2 linked regions of the Homo sapiens genome follow. The protein of the gene in region 1 interacts with the protein of each later gene in a pairwise test. Each region holds a gene or a part of one and is shown in the gene's direction. Other genes may lie near its edges.

What was found.
Region 2: the proteins of WIPF2 (region 1) and TVP23A interact in binary tests that used the Homo sapiens proteins (3 or more experiments, as listed by UniProt).

What each region holds. Positions count from the first base shown.
Region 1 is NC_000017.11:40,212,034-40,223,904, forward strand, and holds the start of WIPF2 (WAS/WASL-interacting protein family member 2), read left to right. Parts: upstream 1-7,270; 5' UTR 7,271-7,459; exon of another isoform or gene 7,460-7,484; intron 7,485-7,637; exon of another isoform or gene 7,638-7,887; intron 7,888-11,871. UniProt on the Homo sapiens protein: Plays an active role in the formation of cell surface protrusions downstream of activated PDGFB receptors. Plays an important role in actin-microspike formation through cooperation with WASL.
Region 2 is NC_000016.10:10,807,444-10,818,467, reverse strand, and holds part of TVP23A (Golgi apparatus membrane protein TVP23 homolog A), read left to right. Parts: intron 1-281; exon of another isoform or gene 282-285; coding exon 286-365; intron 366-9,861; exon of another isoform or gene 9,862-9,931; intron 9,932-11,024.

The sequences.
Region 1 (11,871 bases):
ATAATTTTTATCTGAGATTTTTAGTTGTTTTTTGGGGAGACAGAGTCTTCCAGGTACTTGGCCTGGCAGACAAAGGAAGGCATAAACATGAAATATTTTTGCACGTATTTAATATGACCTGTTTTTTTCCAAGAATGCAACTACTATGTAAATTGTTTTGTATTGTTCAGAACTTTATCAAAAGTTGTTTACCATTTTGGAAAATCACAACCCTAATGGCAATGCTGTTCTATACAACACCCTTAGGTCAGTCTGCATTTATCTCTACCACACTCTTAGTGATTCTAGGTATGGGTGCAAGTATCTGACTACTTTATCTTCTAGTGTAATGGTGCCTGGGTATTTGCATATTGAAACGCCATCCTTCTATTTGTCTTTTTTTTTTTTTTGAGACGGAGTTTCACTCTCATTGCCCAGGCTGGAGTGCAATGGCATGCTCTTAGCTCACTGCAACCTCTGCTTCCCGGGTTCAAGCAATTCTCCTGCCTCAGCCTCCTGAGTAGCTGCGATTAAAGGTGCCCACCATCATGCCTGGCTAATTCTTTATATTTTTAGTAGAGATGAGATTTCCCCATGTTGGCCAGGCTGGTCTTGAACTCCTAACCTCAGGTAATCCACCCGCCTTGGCCTACCAAAGTGCTGGGATTGCAAGTGTGAGCCACCGTGCCCGGCCTATTTGTCTTTTTTATAATCAAGACATCATATTGATTTGTTTTTTGAAATCATGTGTCCAGGCAGGTTATATTATCTGTTCATTTCACTTTGGGATATTAGTGTTGCAAAATATTTGTTATAAGAAAGGAACATTGGGACTGGGTGTAGTGGCTTACACATGTAATCCCAGCACTCTAGGAGGCTAAGGCAGGAGGATCACTGGAACCTAGGCGTTCCAGATCAGCCTGGGTAACACAGTGAGACCTTGTCTCTACTAAAAACAAAAAAAAAATTAGCTGGGCATGGTGGTGTGGGCCTGTAGTCACAGCTATTTGGAAAGCTGTGGCAGGATTGCTTGAACCTTGGAGTTCCAAGTTACAGCCACCTATGATTGTGCTACTGCATTCCAGCCTGGGTGACGGAGCAAGACCCTGTGACATTGGATATGGTAGGGTGGAAAGTCACCAGCCAGGACATTAAGAACGCAGACTCAGCCAGGCATGGTGACTCATGCCTGTAATCCCAGCCCTTTGGGAGGCTGAGGCAGGCAGATCACGAGGTCAGGAGTTCGAGACCAGCCTGGCTAACAGTGAAACCCTGTCTCTAAGAAAAATGCAAAAATTAGCCAGGTGTGGTGGCATGCGCCTGTAGTCCCAGCTACTCGGGAGGCTGAGGCAGGAGAATCGCTTGAACCTGGGAGGTGAAGGTTGAAGTGAGCCGAGGTCGCACCATTGCACTCAAGCCTGGGTGACAGAATGAGACTCCATCTAAAAAAAAAACACACAAAGGCCGGGCGCGGTGGCTCATGCCTGTAATCCCAGCACTTTGGGAGGCCGAGGTGGGTGGATCATGAGGTCAGGAGATCGAGACCATCCTGGCTAACACAGTGAAACCCTGTCTCTACTAAAAATACAAAAAATTAGCCGGGCGTGGTGGTGGGTGCCTGTTGTCCCAGCTACTCAGGAGGCTGAGGCAGGAGAATGGCGTGAACCCGGGAGGTGGAGCTTGCAGTGAGCCGAGATCGTGCCACTGCACTCCAGCCTGGGCGACAGAGTGAGACTCCGTCTCAAAAAAACAAAAAACAAAAAACAAAAAAAAACCACACACACAGGCTCAGCGGGGTGCGGTGGCTCACGCCTGTAATCCCAGCACTTTGGGAGTCCGAGGAGGGTGGATCACAAGGTCAGGAGTTCCAGACCAGCCTGGCCAACATAGTGAAACCCCTTCTCTACTAAAAAATACAAAAATTAGCCAGGTGTGGTGGAGCACGCCTGTAATTCCAGGTACTCAGGAGGCTGATGCAGGAGAATTGCTTGAACCCAGGAGGTGGAGTTTGCAGTGAGCTGAAATCATGCCACTGCTCTCCAGCCTGGGCGACAGGGCAAGATGTGTCTCGAAAAAAAAAAAAGGGGTTGGGCGCAGTAGCACATTCCTCTAATTCCAGCACTTTGGGAGGCCAAGGCTGGCGGATCACCTGAGGTCAGGAGTTCAAGACCAGCCTGACCAACATGGATAAACCCCGTCTCTACTAAAAATACAAAATTAGCTGGGCATGGTGGCACATGCCTGTAATCCCAGCTACTAGGGAGGCTGAGGCAGCAGAATAGTTTGAACCCAGGAGGTGGAGGTTGCGGTGAGCCGAGATCTCGCCATTGCACTCTAGCCTGGGCAACAAGAGTGAAACTCTGTCTCAAAAAAAAAAAAAAAAAATGCCGGGCGCAGTGGCTCACGCCTGTAATCCCAGCACTTTGGGAGGCCGAGGCGGGCGGATCACGAGGTCAGGAGATTGAGACCATCCTGGCTAACATGGTGAAACCCCGTCTCTACCAAAAATACAAAAAAAAAAAATTAGCCAGGTGTGGTGGTGGGCTCCTGTAGTCCCAGCTACTCAGGAGGCTGAGGCAGGAGAATGGTGTGAGCCTGGGAGGTGGAACTTGCAGTGAGCCGAGATCTCGCCACTGCACTCCAGCCTGGGCGAGAGAGCGAGACTCCATCTCAAAACAAACAAACAAACAAACAAAAAAACAAAGGGCCAGGTGTGGTGGCTTACACCTGTAATCCCAGCACTTTGGGAGGCCAAGGCAGGTGGATCACTTGAGGTCAGGAATTCAAGACCAGCCTGGCAAATATGATGAAACCTCATTTCTACTAAAAATACAAAAACTAGCCGGGCGTGCTGGCATGTGCCTGCAATCCCAGCTACTCGGGAGGCTGAAGCAGAAGAATTGCTTGAACCCGGGAGGCAGAGGTTGCAGTGAGCCGAGATCGCGCCATTGCACTTCAGCCTGGGCAACACAGCAAGACTGTCTGAAACAAACAAACAAAAAACACAGACTCTGGAGATACTTTTACTTTCGCTACTTATAGATATGTGACTTTGAGCAAGATGATTAACCTTGCTGTGTCTGTTTCTTCATCTGTAAAATGGGCTTAAAAATATCTGCCTCAGAAAGTTATTGAGAGGATTAAATGAGCTATGTGAGGTTTTGACAGTGCCTGGCACATGGTAAGTGTTACTAAATGTCAAACTTATGATGACTTCTGTAACCTAATTTCTTGCCTCCCCCAGAAGTTCTAACTCTATATCAATATATTTTCTGAACCAGGTGAGGTGGCTCACACCTGTAATCCCAGCACTTTGGGAGGCCGAAGTAGGAGGATCACTTGAGGCCAGGAGTTCCACACCACCTGGGCAACAAAGGGAGATGCTGTGTCTGTGAAAAGAAAAAAATTGGCCGGGCACCGTGGCTCACGCCTGTAATTCTAGCACTTTGGGAGGCCTAGGCAGGTGGATCACGAGGTCAGGAGATCGAGACCATCCTGGCTAACACGGTGAAACCTCATCTCTACTGAAAATACAAAAAATTAGCTGGGCGTGGTGGCGGGCGCTTGTAGTCCCAGCTACTTGGGAGGCTGAGGCAGGAGAATGGCATGAACCCTGGAGGCGGAGCTTGCAGTGAGCCGAGATTGCACCACTGCACTCCAGCCTGGGGGACAGAGCGAGATTCCTTCTCAAAAAAAAAAGAAAGAAAGAAAAAGAAAAAAAATGTAAAAATTAGCTGCATGTGGTCACCAGTGCCTGCAGTCCCAAATAGGAGGCTGAGGCAGAAGGACCACTTGAGCCCAGAAGTTCAAGACTACAGGCCAGGTGTGGTGGCTCACGCCCATAATCCCAGCACTTTGGGAGACCAAGGTGGATGGATTATCTGAGATCAGGAGTTTGAGACCAGCCTGGCCAACTTGGTGAAACCCCATCTCTACTAAAAACACAAAAATTAGGGCCAGGCGCAGTGGCTCACAACTCTAATCCCAGCACTTTGGAAGGCCAAGGCAGGTGGATCACCTGAGGTCTGGAGTTTGAGACCAACCTTGCCTACATGGTGAAACCCCATCTCTACTAAAAATACAAAAAATTAGCCGGGCGTGTTGGCAGGCGCCTGTAATCCCAGCTACTCGGGAGGCTGAGGCAGGAGAATCGCTTGAACCCGGGAGGCGAGCTGAGATTGCGCCATTGCACTCCAGCCTGGGCAACAAGAGAGAAACTCTGTCTCAAAAAAAAAAAAATACAAAAATTAGACAGGCATGGTGGCTGGTGCCTGTAGTCCCAGCTACTCGGGAGGCTGAGGCAGGAGAATCGCTTGAAGCCAGGAGATGGAGGTTGCATTGAGCTGAGATCACACCACTGCACTCCAGCCTGAGCAATAGAGTGAGACTCATTTTCAAAAAATAGAAAAAATAAAAAGACTGCAGGCCAGGCGCAGTGGCTCATACCTGTAATCCCAGCACTTCAGGAGGCCGAGGCGGGCGGATCATGAGGTCAGGAGATCGAGCCCATCCTGGGTAACATGGTGAAACCTCGTCTTTACTAAAACTACAAAAAAAAAAAAAAAATTAGCCAGGCATGGTGGCAGGTGCCTGTAGTCCCAGCTACTCGGGAGGCTGAGGCAGGAGAATGGTGTGAACCCAGGAGGCGGAGCTTGCAGTGAGCCGAGATTGCGCCACTGCACTCTAGCCTGTGCGTCAGAGCGAGACTCTGTCTCCAAAAAAAAAAAAAAAAAAGACTGCAGTGAGCCATTACTGTGCCACTGCACTGCAGCATGTCTTTAAAAGACCCTGTCTCTTAAAAAAAAAAAAAAGTGCGTTCAGTTATTGGAATGTGCCATGATTCTTCTTGCTTTGCCCAAACTCTCCCTACAATGCTTTTCCTTCACTTCTTCCCTGGTCAATTCCTACCTGTCCCTCAAGTCTCACTTAGAATATGGGTATGGCCTCACTTAGTTACTTTCTTTTTTCTTCCTTTAGACAGGGTTTCACTCTATTGCTCGGGCTGGAGTGCAGTGGCCAATCATGGCTCAGCCCAGCCTTGATCTCCTGGGCTTAAGTGATCCTCCCATATCAGCCTCCCAAGTAGCTGGAACCACAGGCTCACACCACCGTGTCCAGCTAATTTTTTTTTTTTTTTTTGAGACAGAGTCTCACTCTCGTTGCCCAGGCTAGAGTGCAATGGAGTGATCTCAGCTCACCGCTACCTCCGCCTCCTGGGTTCAAGCGATTCTCCTGCCTCAGCATCCCAAGTAGCTGGGATTACAGGCATGTGCCAACACACCTGGCTAATTTTGTATTTGTAGTAGAGACGGGGTTTCACCATGTTGGTCAGGTTGGTCTCGAACTCCCCACCTCAGGTGATCTGCCCGCCTTGGCCTCCCAAAGTGCTGGGATTACGGGCGTGAGCCACCGTGCCCGGTTATATCCGGGTAATTTTTGTAGTAACAAGATTTCACCATGTTTCCCAGGCTGGTCTTGAACTTCTGGGCTCAAGCGATCCCCCCTGTCAGCCTCCCAAAGTGCTGGGATTACAGGCATGAGCCACTGCACTTGGGCCATTTACCTTTTTCATGAAGCCTATATCACTATTTCCCCAAGTCTGGGTGAGATGTCCCTATATTCATCCCAGCGGCTGCCCTTATCACAGAGTGTGTGATAGAGCATGGGGCTTTACATTAGCTACAGTGGGCAGTGAATGCCCTCTGAGGACGAAGCATTTGCAGTAAGGCTTGAAAAATGAGGAAGAGGCGGAGGATAGCCAGTACACAGTCCCTGAGGTGGGAACTGCTGAATGGGGTACATTGCAGTGATAGAAATCAGGTCCTCATAATGTAGAGTGAGTGAGGAGGGGACAGGCAGGGGATGAGGTTGAAGAGTTGGGAGGCTCTGGTAAGGTGTTTGGACCCACCATCTCCCTGGCTCCATCGCCCCACGTATGGCCATGCAGGATGTAGACAGCTGAAAATCTTTACCTCGTGTCCTTGATCCCTATGCCTGCTGTGTTCCCTGCCTTCTCTGATTAATAATAAAATTCCATTCATCCTTCAAGGCCCAGCTCCAAACCATTTAGGAAACCTCCTTCCATTCTTTAGCAGGAATTAATTGCTCCCTTGTCTGACGTCCCACAGCACTAATCACACGCTGACTTGTATCTCAGCTAGCTGTTTATGCCAGTCTGCCCACCAACGTAGTGAGTTCCCTGAGGGCAGAGGCTCTGTCTTAGTCACCTCTGTAGCCATCTCCTGGTGTTTAGCAGGTACTCAATGTGACATTTACTTGACTAGTGGGTGGTGCCTAGTACTACTCATGGCAGAATAGAAGGAAAACAAAAATAATAACAACTTATGCTCTATCACGTTTTCCCATTCATTAACTGATTTCAGCTTTGCAACAACTCTATGAGACAGACGGGACAGGCACTATTAGACCCATTTTACAGATAGGGTAGCTAAGGCCCAATGGCACACAGCTTGTAAGTAATGGGGACTAAGTCCCAATCTTGCCCCCTTACTTCGGATTCTGTGCTGGGAATGGAATTAAACCAAGAGTATTTTGAAGCTATAATGGAAAGCGCTTTTCTGGGTGGACTAGGGAGAGATACTTAGTCAGCTGTCAGGGTTTAACAGCAGCTCCATCAAAGAGGGCACAGGATTTCTCTCTCTGGCCCAAGCAGCTGGAGGGGTCCACAGCACCATCCTATAGCCCTGGAAGCTGGAGGAAACCCCAGCCCGAGAAAGAAGAGACGGTGTTCGAGTCAGGTGGGTAAGATGACGTAAATGATGACTTGTGAGCAGTGGCCTGCCTCTGTTGCCATGACAACCGGAGCTTGACTACTTGGCCTTTGCAAGGTTGGCCGAGGCGGGTTCTTCGTTAACTCGAGATTAAGGAAGGATATTTAGGGGGGAGGGTGTGTGTGTGTGCGGCGGATTAAAGACGAAAGGAGTATATTCAACAATGACTGTTTAGCTCAGTGGTTCTCCACCTTGGCAACACGTTAGAATCACCTGCAACAATTTCCTGATGCCTAGGCTGCACCCCAGAATTAAATTATAATTTCCAGGGGTGGGAACCAGGCATCATAGTATTTAAATCTTGCCAGGTGATTCCAATTGCAGCTAAAGTTGCAAACCCAGCTTTTAGCTGGTAAGCGGAATTCCTGTGACCTTCCTAAGATGGCGTCCACTCAACCGCTTCCGCCTTTACGTGGGCCGGCAGGGGGCGGGCTTCCCAGGGGCGCATGCGTCTCGCATCTCTCCGCTCCCTGCTCTCTCCTCCTTTTTCCCCCGCCTCCATTTTGTTCGCGGACGCTGGGGACGGTGGGAGCAGATCCATTTCCGGGTTGGCAAAAGGGGCGGTGGCGGCGGCGGCGGCGGCGGCGGCGGCGGCGACGGCGAGAAAGAGCTTGCCGGGGGGCGAGCAGGACAGGACGAAGCCGGAGTGTAGGCGGCAGAGGATTCGCTCCCAGAGCAGCTGCGGCCAGGTCGGAAAGAGGCCGGGGCGGCTGGGTCAGTCGCTGAAATGACCTGCGGACCTGAGTGGGAGGGAAAGTCGCGGGGAGGGGGGCTCGGGGCGGGGCTTGAGAAGAGAGGGGGGCATTAGAGGAGGGGCCGGAGGGGGAGAGGGGTCTTGCGGGTGGGGCCTGAGGGGCGGGGGGCCGGGGGACTGTATCGGAAGAACCTGGAGGAGAGAGGGCGTGGGGAATCTGGGGAGGAGTGGTCGAATATTGGTATGGGGCGAGCGGGGACTGGAAAAATGGGGAGGAACGTTTTTGAGAGACAGGCAATAAGGGCTCCTGAAGGGTTGGGTGAGTTAAGGCGGCAACTCTGTGAGGAACGAGGTAATCGTGCGCAAAAAGGGAGACGGGAACGGAGGACCTGTTGGGAACGGCTAATTAGCAGGATGCTGTGGGTGAGGAGTCCAGTGTGACATTTTGGGGATTGAGTTAGGTGAAAGCTAGTGTTTGGGAAGATGGCTCGGGAAACTGCTTACACTAGAGGGAATCTTGAGAGCGTTCTTTGAAAAGGAATCAGAATTTAGTTAAAGGTTGGATTGAGAATGTTAAGATGCGCATTGGAACGTCTGGAGTTGAGGGTTCATGTTGAAGTGGTGTGAAGTGAGGGAAGATGGAATTTTTTTTTTTTTGTTTTAAAGGTGGGGTCTGGCTATGTTGCTCAGACTAGTCTTGAACTCCTGGGCTCAAGCGATCTTCCCACCTTGGACTCCCAGAGTGCTGGGATTACAGGTGTGAGCCACTGCACCCGGCCAAGATGGAAATGTTAAAGTGTTCAGCATGGCAGTGTGTATGGTCGAGTTTTTTATCAGGAAGGAAAGTTCTTAAAAATAGCATTGAGGCAAGGAACTGATATGTGATGGAATTCTTTTTTCTTTTTTTTTCTTTTAAGAGACGTGGTCTCACTCTGTCGCCCGGGCTGGAGTGCAGTGGCATGATCATGGCTCCTTAAAGCCTCGACCTCCCGGGCTGAAGTGGTCCTTCCACCTAAGCCCCGCCAATAGCTGGGACCACAGGTGTGACCACTACTCCCGCCTAACGTGTGTGTGTGTATATATATATATATATATATATATATATATATATATATATATATGTATATATATATATTTTTTTGTTGTTGTTGTTGGAGACAGAGTCTTGCCCTGTTGTCCAGGCTAGTCTGGAATTCCTGGGCTCAAGTGATCCTCCTGTCTCGGCCTCCGCAAGTGCTGGGATTACAGGGATGAGCCACTGTGCCTGGCCCAGAATTCGTTTTTTTTTTTTTTTTGAGATGGAGTCTCGCTCAGTGGCCTAGGCTGGAGTGTAGCGGTGCGATCTCGGCTCACTGCAAGCTCCGCCTCCCGGGTTCACGCCCATTCTTCTGCCTCAGCCTCCCGAGTAGCTGGGACTATAGGTGCCCACCACCACACCTGGCTAATTTTTTTTTGAATTTTTAGTAGAGACGGGGTTTCACTGTGTTAGCCAGGATGGATGGTCTGGATCTCCTGACCTCGTGATCCGCCCGCCTCTGCCTCCCAGAGTTCTGGGATTAGAGGCGTGAGCCCCTGCGCCTGTCCAGAATTCATATTTTTTAAAGGACTTGAATAATCTGTTATTGCTTTGGGCTCTCCCAGGGTCCCCGTCCTTTTTCATGCTGTTATTTTTGCCTTACGGTTTTGGTTTTTGACTGTCTTACTGAATGTTTTTGGCTATTCTGTTCTCCTTTTACAAATCAGAAGAGAACCACAGGGAATAAGGACAGTTTTAGCCTACCTATGGATTTAGTAAATAACTTCAAGGCAAATTATTAAGCTCTCATTTTTTTCCCCTTTGAAATATAGGTTTTCTCTGTCCCTGCCTCTAAAAGTTTGTCTTAACACATGGGATCTTTAAAGTGGTTGCATAGAAGTGATCTCTGAAAATGAGATTGAGATATTGATATTTAAAAGACATACAATGGTGCACCTGCCTGTAATCCCAGCTACTTGGGAGGCTGAGGCAGGAGGATTGCTTGAGTCTAAGAGTTCGAGACCATTCTGGGCAACGTAGCAATACCCCATCTCTCTCTCTGTCTCTTTTTTTGTTTGTTTGTTTAAGACGGAGTCTCGCTCTTTCACCCAGGCTGGAGTGCAGTGGCGTGATCTCGGCTCACTGCAACCTCTGCCTGCCGGATTCAAGCGCTTCTCCTGCCTCAGTCCCCCAAGTAACTGGTACTATAGGCATGCACCACCACGCCCAGCTAATTTTTTGTATTTTAGTAGAGATGGGGTTTCACCATGTTGGTCAGGCTGGTCTCGAACTCCTGACTTCAGGTGATCCACCCACCTCGGCCTCCCAAAGTGTTGAGATTACAGGCATGAGCTACCACACCTGGCCGCATGTTTAGTTTTTTAACTCTTATTAATGTCAACTTTTAAAAGTAAAAATTTCATATTGTGTTACATTGGTTGCCATCAAGATGAAGATAGGGAAGTTAAGAGTTGGGGAAGGTGGAGATGAATGAAGTCAATTGATGAAGACTAGTAGAATGTAGTGTTGGTTTTTTTATTTGTTTATTTATTTATTTTGAGACAGAGTCTTGCTGTATTGCCCAGGCTGGAGTGCAATGGCACAATCTTGGCTCACTGCAACCTCTGTCTCCTGGGTTCAAGCAATTCTCCTGGCTCAGCCTCCCAAGTAGCTGGGATTACAGGCGCGTGCTGCCACGCCCAGCTAATTTTTGTATTTTTAGTAGAGACAGGGTTTCACCGTATTGGCCAGGCTGGTCTCGAACTCCTGACCTCGTGATCTGCCCACCTTGGCCTCCCAAAGTGCTGGGATTACAGGTGTGAGCCACCGCGCCTGGCCGACCTGTCTCTTAAAGGAAAACAAGGCTGGGCGCGCTGGCTCATGCCTATAATCCCAACGCTTTGGGAGGCCAAGGTGGTGGATCACCTGAGATTGCAGTGAGCTGAGATCGCGCCATTGCACTCCAGCCTGGGCAACAAGAGCGAAACTCCACCTCAACAACAACAACAACAACAACAAAAGGAAACATGTTTTTCTGTTTCTTCCTCTTAGCCTTGCTCATGTGTGTGTGTGTTTGTGTGTGTGTGTGTGTGTCTGCGTGCCAGCCAGGGAAGAACTGGTTTTGATTTGATGCATATTCAGTTTTTTTTTTTTTTTTTTTTTTTTTTTTTTTTTGAGACAGAGTTTCGCTCCTGCTGCCCAGGCTGGAGTGGAATGGCGCAGTCTTGGCTCACTGCAACCTCCGCCTGCCGGATTCAAGCGCTTCTCCTGCCTCAGTCCCCCAAGTAACTGGTACTATAGGCATGCACCACCACGCCCAGCTAATTTTTTGTATTTTAGTAGAGATGGGGTTTCACCATGTTGGTCAGGCTGGTCTCGAACTCCTGACTTCAGGTGATCCACCCACCTCGGCCTCCCAAAGTGTTGAGATTACAGGCATGAGCTACCACACCTGGCCGCATGTTTAGTTTTTTAACTCTTATTAATGTCAACTTTTAAAAGTAAAAATTTCATATTGTGTTACATTGGTTGCCATCAAGATGAAGATAGGGAAGTTAAGAGTTGGGGAAGGTGGAGATGAATGAAGTCAATTGATGAAGACTAGTAGAATGTAGTGTTTGTTTTTTTATTTGTTTATTTATTTATTTTGAGACAGAGTCTTGCTGTATTGCCCAGGCTGGAGTGCAATGGCACAATCTTGGCTCACTGCAACCTCTGTCTCCTGGGTTCAAGCAATTCTCCTGGCTCAGCCTCCCAAGTAGCTGGGATTACAGGCATGTGCCACCTGGCTAATTTTTGTATTTTTAGTAGAGACAGGGTTTTGCCATGTTGGCCAGGCTGGTCATTTACTAATTCCACCTCACACTTGATACTAGAGTAGTGTTTACCCTAGCTGGTACTGATAAGTTATGTGATAGCACCAAGGTGAAATGCAGGAGAGGTGTGAACATTGGAGTTTTCAGGTTTTACTGATGGCTTTTACGAAGGGAAGAGATTCTAGACTCACTAGGTGTTTTTAGGAAAAAAAAAAGGCAAGAGGCAAGAGACAGAAGTCTTGTTCTGTTGAAGAGAAAATTTTTTTTTGGGTTTTTTTTTTTTTTTTTTGAGACGGAGTCTCGCTCAGTTGCCCAGGCTGGAGTGCAATGGCATGATCTCTGCTCACTGCAACCTCCACCTCCCAGGTTCAAGCGATTCTCCTGCCTCAGCCTCCTGAGTAGCTGGGTGCCATCACGCCTGGCTAATTTTTGTATTTTTGTAGAGACGAGGTTTCACTGTGTTGGTCAGGCTGGTCTCGAACTTCTGACCTTGTGATCTGCCAGTCTCGGCCTCCCAAAGTGCTGGGATTACAGGCGTGAGCCACCGCGCCCGGCCCGAGAAAATTATTAAATGTT
Region 2 (11,024 bases), on another chromosome or scaffold:
CTGGGGCTGGAGGCGGGGCGGGACGAGGGGAGCCTGCGGGAGCGCTGGAGAAGCCGGGAGGAGGAGGAGGGATGCGCCGGGGCCTGGGGCTGGGCTGCACCCGGTGGTCGGGAGGGTGGAGAGGGCTTTGCACTGCAGCCGCAGCGGAGGGGCCCCGCCAGCTCGGAGGGTCCACTTGGGAACCCGGTGGGGTGCAAGTGGAGTCCAAGCCCAGGAGGACAGGGCGGGTGGGGTTGGGGTGTGCGCCGTGCTTGGGCCTGCCACCTGCCCTTGCTCTCCTCCCAGGCCCTGGTGGACGATACCGAGGATGTGTCCCTGGACTTTGGAAACGAGGAGGAGCTGGCCTTTAGGAAAGCCAAGATCAGGTGTGTTGGGATGGAGCTTGGGTCAGGCGTTCCCCAAAGCTGCAAATTCATTCATTTACTCACTCATTCATTCAAAATATATTGAGCACCTACTGTGTGCCAGGTCTGGGGCTGGGGACATATCTGTGGACACATCAGACAAAGTCCCTGCCCTCCTGGAGCCTGCATTGGGAGAGGGAGGAAGAAGGGGTGGAGTTGATGTTGAACAGGCAAGGAGATTAATGAGATAATTGAATGTGAGAAGAAAATCAGCCCTGTGATGAAAGAGAAGGTAACTAGAGAAGGCCACTTGCCTTAGTGCAGCCATGGAGGGCCTCTCTGAGGAGGTGGCATTTGAGCTGAGACCAGAATGATGAGAAGCAGCCAGCCATGGGAGACTCCAGAGGGAGAGTGTTCCAAGCTGAAGGAACAGCAAGCGCAAAGGCCCTGGGGCTATGTTGTAAGATCAGAGAAAGCCACTGAGGCCAGAGGGGAGCAAGCTTGGCAGTGGGCTGGACAAGTGGAAGAGAGCTTGGAGTTTTATTCTAATCCCTGCTGAGTCTAGCTAGACAGACTTGTCCTGGGTCAAGTCACTTAACTGCCTGAGACCTCTAGCATCCCAGAAGGTGGCATGACCAAGGCATGAGGGATGACCTGTGAACGTGGTTGCCGATGGCCCAGGCGGCAGCCACTTCTAGAAACACCCACAGCTCAGCCTCACTCACCCACCCAGTTCTGCTTCCAGCTATCAGAGCCAGTAGGCATGGGACGAGCCCTGGCACCCAAATGCCATTCCTTGTAAAGTCTCTGTTTTTAAAATCAAACTCTCTGATTCAAACCTAATAAACCCCAGAAAGTAATAGACTGTATTAGTTTCCTATGGCCGCTAGAACAAATTACCATTATCATCTTGGCTTAAGACAAAAGAAGTTTATTCTCCTGCAGTTCTGGAGGCCAGAAGTCCACAGTCAGTGTTCCTGGGCTGAAACCAAGGTGGCAGCAGTGCCACACTCCCTTCGGAAGAATTAGGGGAAAATCCATTCTTTGCCTTTTCCAGCTTTTGGTGACTGCTGGCATTCTGTGGCTTGTGGCCTGTTCCTCCGTCTTCAAGGCCAGTGTTATAGCATGTTCACATCTCTCTCTGTTCCATGGTCAGGTGACGTGTGTGTGTGTGTGTGTGTGTGTGTGTGTGTGTGTGAAGTTTCCCTGTGCCTCTTTCTTTTTTTTTATTTTATTTATTTTTTATTATTATTGTACTTTAAGTTTTAGGGTACATGTGCACAACGTGAAGGTTCGTTACATATGTATACATGTGCCATGTTGGTGTGCTGCACCCATTAACTCGTCATTTAGCATTAGGTATATCACCTAATGCTATCCCTCCCCACTTCCCCCGTGCCTCTTTCTTATAAGGACTATTGTGTTGGCATTTAGCGTCCACCCAGATAATCTAGGATAACCTTTGCATCTCAAGATCCTTAATTATAGGCTGAGTGCATGGCTCACACCTGTAAGTAATCTCAGCACTTTGGGAGGCCAAGGCGGGCAGATCACTTGAGGTCAGAAGTTTGTGACCAGCCTGGCCAACATGGTGAAACCCTGTTTCTACAAAAAATACAAAAATTAGCTGGGTGTAGTGGCATGCACCTGTAATCTCAGCCACTCAGGAGGCTGGGGAAGGAGAATCACTTGAACCCGGGAGGTAGAGGCTGCAGTGGGCTGAGATCACACCACTACACTCCAGTCTGGGCGACAGAGTGAGACCCTGTCTCAAAAAAAAAAAATTCTTAATTAAATAATTAAATTACATCTGCAAAGTCCCTTTCATCATATATGGTGGCTGTCACAATTTCTGGGGATTAGAACCTGGATTTCTTTTTTTTTTTTTTTTTTTTGAGATAGGGTTTTGCTCTGTTGCCAAGGCTATATAGTGCAGTAGTACAATTATGGCTCACTGGAACCTCAAACTTTTGGGTTCAAGAGTTCCTCCTGCCTCAGCCTCCCTAGTAGCTAGGACTATAGGTGTTGCCACCATGCCAGGCTAATTTTTTAAAAATTTAATTTTGTAGAGATGGGGTCTTGGTATGTTGTCCAGGCTGATCTGGAACTTCCGGCCTCAAGTACTCTTCCCGTGTCAGCCTCTTAAAGCCTTGGGATTACAGGCATGAGCCACTGCACCCATCCAGGACCTGGATATTTTCGGAGGCTATTATTCATCCCACCATAATGGCCAATGATTATCTTTAAGGGAAGACACTGCAAATGAAGATTCCAAAAGAACTGGAATCCTGGGTAAAGAATCTTCTAGAACATCTGAACTCATATGTGTTCAATTTCTATTGAGTATCTACTGTATGCTCAACTCTGGGCTAGTGGCTGGGGAAATGCAGTGTTCAGGACCCCACTCCTGCCTTTACAGATTGCCCAATCTAGGGCAGGTTTGCTTAATGTTAGCACTCCAGACATTTTAGGCCAGATACTTCTTTGCTGTAAGGAGTGTCCTGTGCACCGTGGGATGTTTAGCAGCATTCCTGGCCTCTATTCACCAGATGCCAGTAGCAGCCCATCCATAAAGTCTCAGGCATTGCCAAATATCCTCTGTGGGGCAAACTTGCCCCCGGTTGAAAACCACTGGTTTGCAGGGTGGGAGTAGGCATACCAGTGGCTATTACAACTCAGTATTTTTGTTTTGTTTTGTTTTTGTTTTTGTTTTTGAGATGGAGTCTCACTGTCACCCACGCTGGAGCACAGTGGTGCAATCTCGGCTCACTACAACCTCTGCCTCTTGGGTTCAAGCAGTTCTCCCGCCTCAGTCTCCCAAGTAGCTGGGACTGCAGGTGCACGCCACCACGCTTGGCTGATTTTTATGTTTTTTGTTTTGTTTTGTTTTAGTAGAGATGGAGTTTCGCCATGTTGGCCAGGCTGGTCTCAAACTCCTGATCTCAGCCTCCCTACCTACCTACTTCAGCCTCCCACAGTGCTGAGATTATAGGTGTGAGCCACTGTGCCTGGCCAGAACTCAGTATTTTAAACGCTGGGATAGGCAGAAGCTGGGGCTCCTATCCTGGCCAGAGAAGGAGGTACCAGCTAAGCTGGGACCCACAGGTAGGGTAGGAGTTGGTTAGGCTGGGAAGGGTAGATATACCATGGGGAGGCTTGGAGGTAAGGTCATGAATTTAGGGTGGTTCCATGTGGCTCAAGACCCAGGTGCTGGGAAGTGGCCTGCGTGGAGATCGGGGCCAGACCCTGCAGCACTTAGCAACCAAGCTCCAAGCTCTGGAGGTGCATTGTCCACTGAACCTTCTATGAGGATGGGGCTGTGCCTTTATCTGTGCTGTGCAGCACGGTGGCCTCAGCCACCTGTGGTGATTAAATGTCTGAAATGTGGCCAGGGCGCCTGAGGGACAAATGTTTTGATATTATTTAATTAATTTGAATGTAAATAGCCACATGTGGCTGTGGCATTGGGCAGGGCAGTTCCAGAGTTCGGTCACCATGGAAGGATTTTGCTCAGGGCAGTGATGGAGGCTGGGTTGTTGGGGTGGAAGTAGGATAGGAGATCAGACCAAGGCACTGGCAGGGATGACAGAGGAAAGGGGCCCAGAGGCACAGGGGAGGTAGAATCGGCCCGCCTTGCTGGTGGTCAAGATGTGGGGTAGGGACAGGGATCATCAGGGTGACACTCAGGCTGGTGGTCTGGTGAGTCAGGTGAAGAAGCACTTCTGGGGGAAAGATGTTGAACTCAGAGTGGTCCTTGTTAGTCTGTGTTGGAACATTCTAGTAGCCAGTGGACAGCTGGGAGGAGAGGCCAGGAGCTCGAGAAGTCACCAGGGCTGCAATCAGAGATCTGGGAGGCAGCAGTTCATGTATCCAGGTGGGTATGTTTGAGAGCCACCCATCCCAGAATCCTCGGTGTGCCTAATGCAGATTCCTGGGTCTGGCCCTGGACTTATTTAACCAGATTCACAGGGGATGGGCCTAGGAACATGAATTTAAAATAGCACCCCATTGATTCTGATGTGTAGGAATGTAGAGATGGCTCTAAAATCCTGAGAACAAATGAATTTACCCAGATTGCAGTGTAGAAAGGGAATTTTTTTTTTTTTTTTTTTTTTTTTTTTTTTGAGATGGAGTTTCACTCTTTTTGCCCAGGCTGGAGTGCAGTGGTGCGATCTCGGCTCACTGCAACCTCTGCCTCCCGGGTTCAAGTGATTCTCCTGCCTCAGCCTCCTGAGTAGCTGGGATTACAGGTGCGTGCCACCACGCTGGCTAATTTTGTATTTTTAGTAGAGACAGGGTTTCATCATGTTGGCCAGGCTTGAACTCCTGATCTTGAGTGATCCTAGTGCCTTGGCCTCCCAAAGTGCTGGGATTACAGGCGTGAGCCACCATGCCCGGCCTAGAAAGGGAATTCTTAACTGAGGTCTACAGATGGGCTTCAGGGGTTCAGGAAACCTCTGAAAACTATTATCTAAGTTTCATATGTGTGTTGTTTTAGAAAAAGGATCCAAACTTTATTTATTTATTTGTTTATTTGTTTGTTTATGAGACGGAGTCTTGCTATGTTGTCCATGCTGATCTCAAACTCCTGGACTCAAGCGATCTCTCTGCCTCATCTTCCCAAAGTGCTCCCAAAGGATCCAAACATTAATTGGATTATCAAATGGGCCCATGATCCAAAAAAGTTAAGAATCGCTAGTATAGAGTGAAAACAGTTATTTGTAAATCCCTTGTTGAAATGGATTCCAGGCTGACATCGAAAGGAGGTGATGCTGTGGAAGGGGGCCTGTCACAGGAGTCTGGGACATTGGGTTCATCTCTTCCTTTATCACTTTCTGGCTTTGTGATTTTTGGACAGGTCACCTTACTTTGCTGGGCCTCCATTGGCCAGTCGGTAAAATGGGGATAATTGTATCAGCCTGACTTCACCACGTGGTTATTATACAGTTTATTTACTAAATATTTATTCAACATCTGCCAGGGGCAGGTGCTGGGCTAAGCCCTGGGGATGGAGCTCTGGTCTCTGCTCTTTCTGTCCCTGGTTCCAGGTCAGTGAGGTGCAGTGTTGCGGTGGGGGGCCTGGGAAGTACATCACATCTTGCAGGATCAGTGGAGGGTGTGATTCCACAGCAGAGCTGGGCACACAGAGGAAATGTTAGCCATGCTGTATGTGTTTTTCCCCGGTGGGCAAACTTTTTATTTCTTTTTACTTTTTTTTTCAACTTTAAAAAACTGTGATTAAAAAAAACCCACAGCGTAAAATTCCATCTTAGTCATTTTAAATTATACAGTTTAGTAGTTCAAGTATAGTCACGTTGTGAAACAGAGTGTTTTCATCTTGCAAAACTGAAACTCTGTGCCGTTTAACAACTCTCCTTCCCCCAGCCCCTGGTAAATACCATTCTCCTTTCTGTCTGTATGCATTTGACTACTCTAGGGACCCCATAAAAGGGTCATACAGTATTTGTCCTTTTTTTATTGGCTTACTTCACTTAGCATAACGTCCTCAAGTTTCATCCATGTTACAAAATGTGCCAGAATTTCCTTCCTTTTTAAGGCTGGATAATAGTTCCATGATATGAATAAACTATGTTTTGTTGACCCATTCATCCACTTGGGTACACTTGTACCTCTTGCTGTTGAGAACAGTACTGCAATGAATGTGGGTATGCAAATCTCTTTTTGAGATTCTGCTTTCAATTCTTTTGGCCATATACCCACAAGTGGGATTGCTGGATCCTATGGTAGTTCTATTTTTAATTTTTTGAGGAACTACCATACTGTTTTCCACATCAGTTACACCATTTTACAATCCCATCAACACTGTACAAGGGTCCCAGTTTCTCCGCATCCTTGCCAACATTGTTATTGACTGTGTTTTTGATAGTAACCACCTCATGGGTGTGATAACCATGGTATTTCGTTGTGGTGTAGATTGGCATATCCCTAATGGTTAATGATGCTGCTGAGCATTTTTTCATGTGCTATGTGTCCACTTGTATATCACCTTTGGAGAAATGTCTATTCAAGTCTCTTGCCCGTTTTTTTTAATCAGTTATCGGATTTTTGTTGTTGAGGTCTTTATTCTGTATATTAATATTTTCTCTTATTCTATAGGCTGCCTTTTCATTCTGTTGGTTGTGTCTTCTGATGCACAAAAGTTTTTAGGTTTAATGTAATTCCGTTTGCCTTTTTGTACTTTTTTTTTTTTTTTTTTTTTGAGACGGAGTCTTGCTCTGTCCCCCAGGCTGGAGTGCAGTGGCGTGATCTTGGCTCACTGCAAGCTCCACTTCCCGGGTTCACGCCATTCTCCTGCCTCAGCCTGCCGAGTAGATGGGACTACAGGTGCCAGCCACCATGCCCGGCTAACTTTTTGTATTTTTAGTAGAGACGGGGTTTCACCATGTTAGCCAGGATGGTCTCGATCTCCTGACCTCGTGATCCGCCCGCCTCGGCCTCCTAAAGTGGCCGATTTGTACCTTTTGTTTCCTTTGCTTTTAGTGTCAGTGTATGTGTGTGTGTGTGTGTGTTTAATTTAATATAATATAATTCATGGCCAGGCACTGTGGCTCATGCCTGTAGTTCCAGCACTTTGGGAGGCTGAGTCAGGTGGATTGCTTGAGGCCAGGAGTTTGAGACCAGCCTGAGCAACATGGCAAAACCCCGTTATCTACAGAAAATACAAAAAGTAGCCAGACGTGGTGGCACACACCTGTAGTCCCAGGTACTTGGGAGGCTGAGGTAGGAAGATTGCTTGAGCCTGGGAGGTCAAGGCTGCAGTAAGCCATTATCACACCACTGCACTCTAGCCTGGGTGACAGAGCAAGATCCTGTCTCAAAAAACAAAATAAATAAAAAGAAATATAATTCACATTCCACCAATTTCTTCTTTAAAAGTGTATGATTCAGTTTTGATTTTGATACATTCACAAGGTTGTACATCCATTACTACTATGTAGTTCCAGAAGTTTTTCACTGCGCCAAATGGGAGCCCTGTACCCATCAGACAGTCCCTACCCATCTTCCCTTTCCCCAAGCCCCTGGGAACCACTAGTCTACTTTCTGTTCCTATGAATTTGCCTGTTCCGGACATTTCATGTAAATGAAATCTGGGTTAGTCATGGATCTCCAAAGAAACAAAACCAATAGGATATCTGTAAGTATGGAGAAAGAGATTTATTATGAGGAATTCATTCATGCAATTTTGGAGACTGAGAAGTCCCACGATCTGCCATCCACAAGCAGCAGGCCCAGGAACGCCGGTGGCATAAAACCCATCCTAGCCCGAAGGCCTGGGAACCAGGGGAGCCTACAGTGTCTCATTCTGAATCTGAAAGCCCCAGAACAGAGGGGCCGACGTGTAAGGCCTAGTCTGACTCCAAAGGCCCCAAAACCAGGAGGTATGATGTCTGAGAGGAGATGAGGACGGCTATCCTAGCTCAAGCAGGGAGAGGAAATTCCCTCTTCCTTTCTTTGTTGTCGTATTCAGGCCCTCAAAGGTTTGGATAATGCCCATCCAGATTGGGAAGGGAGGGCCTTCTTTTTTCTTTTCTTTTCTTTTCTTTTTTTTTTTTTTTGAGACAGGGTCTTGCTCTGTCACCCAGGCTGGAATACCATGGTGTGATCTCAACTCACTGCAGCCTCCACCTCCCGGGCTCAATTGATCCTCCTGCCTCAGCCTCCTGAGTAGCTGGGACTACAGGCATGCACCACCACGCCTGCCTAATTTTTCTATTTTTTGTAGAGACGGGATCACTATGTTGCCCAGGCTGGTCTTGAGCTCCAGAGCTCAAGTGATCCTCCCACCTTGGCCTCTCAAAGTGCTGGGATTACAGCCATGAGCCACTGCATGAGGGTGGATCTTCTTTTCTCCGTCCACCAATTCAAATGCTAATTTTTTTTTTTTCCTAGAAACACCTTCACAGACCCAGATGTGATCTGGGTATCCCTTAGCCCAGTCTAGGTGACACATGTTTTGTACAATATGTGGCTTTTTGTCTGGCTTCTTTCACTTAGCATATTTTCCAGGTTCATCCCGGTTTAGGTGTTTACCATTATTTCATTCCTTTTGATGGTCAAATAATCACCCATTGTGTGGACATACCACATTCTGTTTATCCATTCATACATTGATGGGCATTTGAGTTGTTTCTGCTTTTGTGTTGTTATGAGTAATGTTGCTATGAATGTTTATGTACGTGCTTTTTTTGGGGCATACATTTTTGGTTCTTTTGGGCACATACCTAGGAGTGGAATTGCTGGGCCACATGGTAACTCTGTTTTAGCCGTGCTGTGTTGCAGACCAGCTGTGAGTGAGTGTTGTGGGTTTCCAGCTGCCTTGGGATGCAGGAGGAGCCTGGGCTTTAGGTCAGACAGACCTGGATCTTGATTCTACCACTCCCTAGCCAAGTGACTGCACCCCCACAGTACAGTTCTGGGCCCAAGCTGGCAGGTGCAAATAGGCTTTGATATAAAACTATGTTTCCTCAGCTCTATAGGAAGACAGAGGTAGGGCATCTTCAGCTCATTGGGAGATCTAGCCCCTGCACCCACATAGCTCCTTTTGCTCTACTACTGCAAGAATTGTGTCTGGCTGCCACAGGCGAGAGCCAAAGCACTATGGGTTACCTTGAATCACAGAAGCTGTAGCCTCCGTTTCCCACCAACCTTTTCTATGACTCTGTTTACCCAGACCCAAGGCCTGCTGGCCAACTCAGTCCCTCCAGTGCAGGGGCAGTGGGTGGCAGATACAACAGTCCTCGTGGAGCCTCTGTGCTACGGGAGGCCAGGGTCATTCCCAGGCAGGCCCCCATCAGCCCAGGCCCGATGTTAACCCTTGACTCACAGTGACCTTGAACTTGAACAGTGACCATGACACCTTCTGGGTACCCACTTTTCTTTTCTGTAAAATGGGGTTGATGTTGGCTGTATTATAAGGTTGTAAAAAGATGATTAAATGAGGTGCACAATGTGTTTAGGGGACCTGGCAGGGCTCCTGATGCCCCTTGTGGGCTTCAGAAGTGGCACCTGTTATTCTGATCACGAGTGTGACTTCCGCATCCTGGGCTGTGCAGAGGCATGTTCTCAGCTCACCCCATCACACTGGAGTTCTCCTGGAGTTGGAAACTGTCTTCCTGTGGAAAGTTATGTTATGCTTTCAAGGCACTGTTTTCACAGAATTCCTCCGAACCCAAAGGTCATGGGCTTCCATGAATTTCCACCCAAAGTAGGAAAGTCTCTTCCTGCCACAGACAGATTTCTTAGATCTAATTTTGGTCTCAGCTGTCAGAGCTGGTTTTGTTTGTGGGGTTTGACCAGTGTTTCTTTTTCTTTTGGGGAGTTGTGGGGGGATAAGATCTTGTTCTGTTGCCCAGGCTGGAGTGCAGTGGTGTAATCATGGCTCACTGCAGCCTCAACCCCCTGAGCTCAAGCAATCCTCCCTTCTCAGCCTCCTCAGTAGCTGGGAATACAAGCATGCACTACTACACCCTGCTAATTTTATTTTTATTTTTTGTAGAGACCGGGTCTCAAAACTCCTAGCCTCAGTGATCCTCCTGCCTTGGCCTCCCAAAGTGCTGGGATTAAAGGTATGAGCCACTGCACCCAGCCTGCTTATTATTTCTTGGTTGGTCCTTGTTCAGCCTAGTGAATGTCATATTGAGAAGATCATTGTCCTGTGGTCTCAGACACTACAGGAAATCACATGTTAGTGGGCTCAGGTCTTCAGGCAAACACGTGAAGTAAAAATCACCCCTGAAAATCCCTAACTAGCCAATCAAGTAACTTTTGTCTTTCAAGAAGTCTTTAGCCATCACTTTATCTGCCATTGGATACAAAAGCAGTCCTGGACATGAGCCCCGCTTGAAATTGTTGGCTGCTGTTTGGGGGAACTTATGTTGAATGAAAAATAACAATAGCAAACACTTCCCCAGCACTTACTATATGCAAGCACTATTCCAGGTTTTTTATTTAGCATAATTCATTTCATCTTCATTACAAACCTAGGCACTATCATTTTCTCAGAGTCAAGATTAAAAAGACTGAAGCTAACAGAGAGAGCTGAGTGACTTGCTCAATGTCACACACCTGTTCACTTCAAGGAAGGGATTTGAGCCTGACACGGTGGCATGCACCTGTAATCCCAGTTACTAGGGAGGCTGAGGTGAGAGGATGGCTTCAGTCCAGGAGTTCGAGTCCAGCCTGGACAACATAGCAAGAACCCACCTCTAAAAAGAAAAAACAGAGGAGATTTGAACCCTTGGAATCGGGCTCTAGACTCCATATCTTACATTACATTGTGCGCAGATACTCACAGGGCGAGACACTCAGCGTGAGCTTTGCTGTGAGAACAGCAGATTCAGGGCTTCCATCTTAGGCTTACCCTGGGGAGTACTTTATATGTTCCTCCTGTAAATGCTGATGCAGAATTGACCCCACTCTTTAGAGCAGCTTCTCAGCCTTGGCACTATGGATATTTGAGGCAGATCATTCTATGTGGTGGAGGCTGTCCTATGTATCATAGGATGCTGGGCAGCACCCCAGCCCCCACCCACTACATGCCAGTAGCTTCCAACCCCTCAGATGTGACAATGAAAAATGTCTCCTGATGTGGCCAAGTGTCCCCTCACAGCCACATTGCCCCTGGTTGAGATCTCTGATTTAGATTATCCCCTCTCTGTC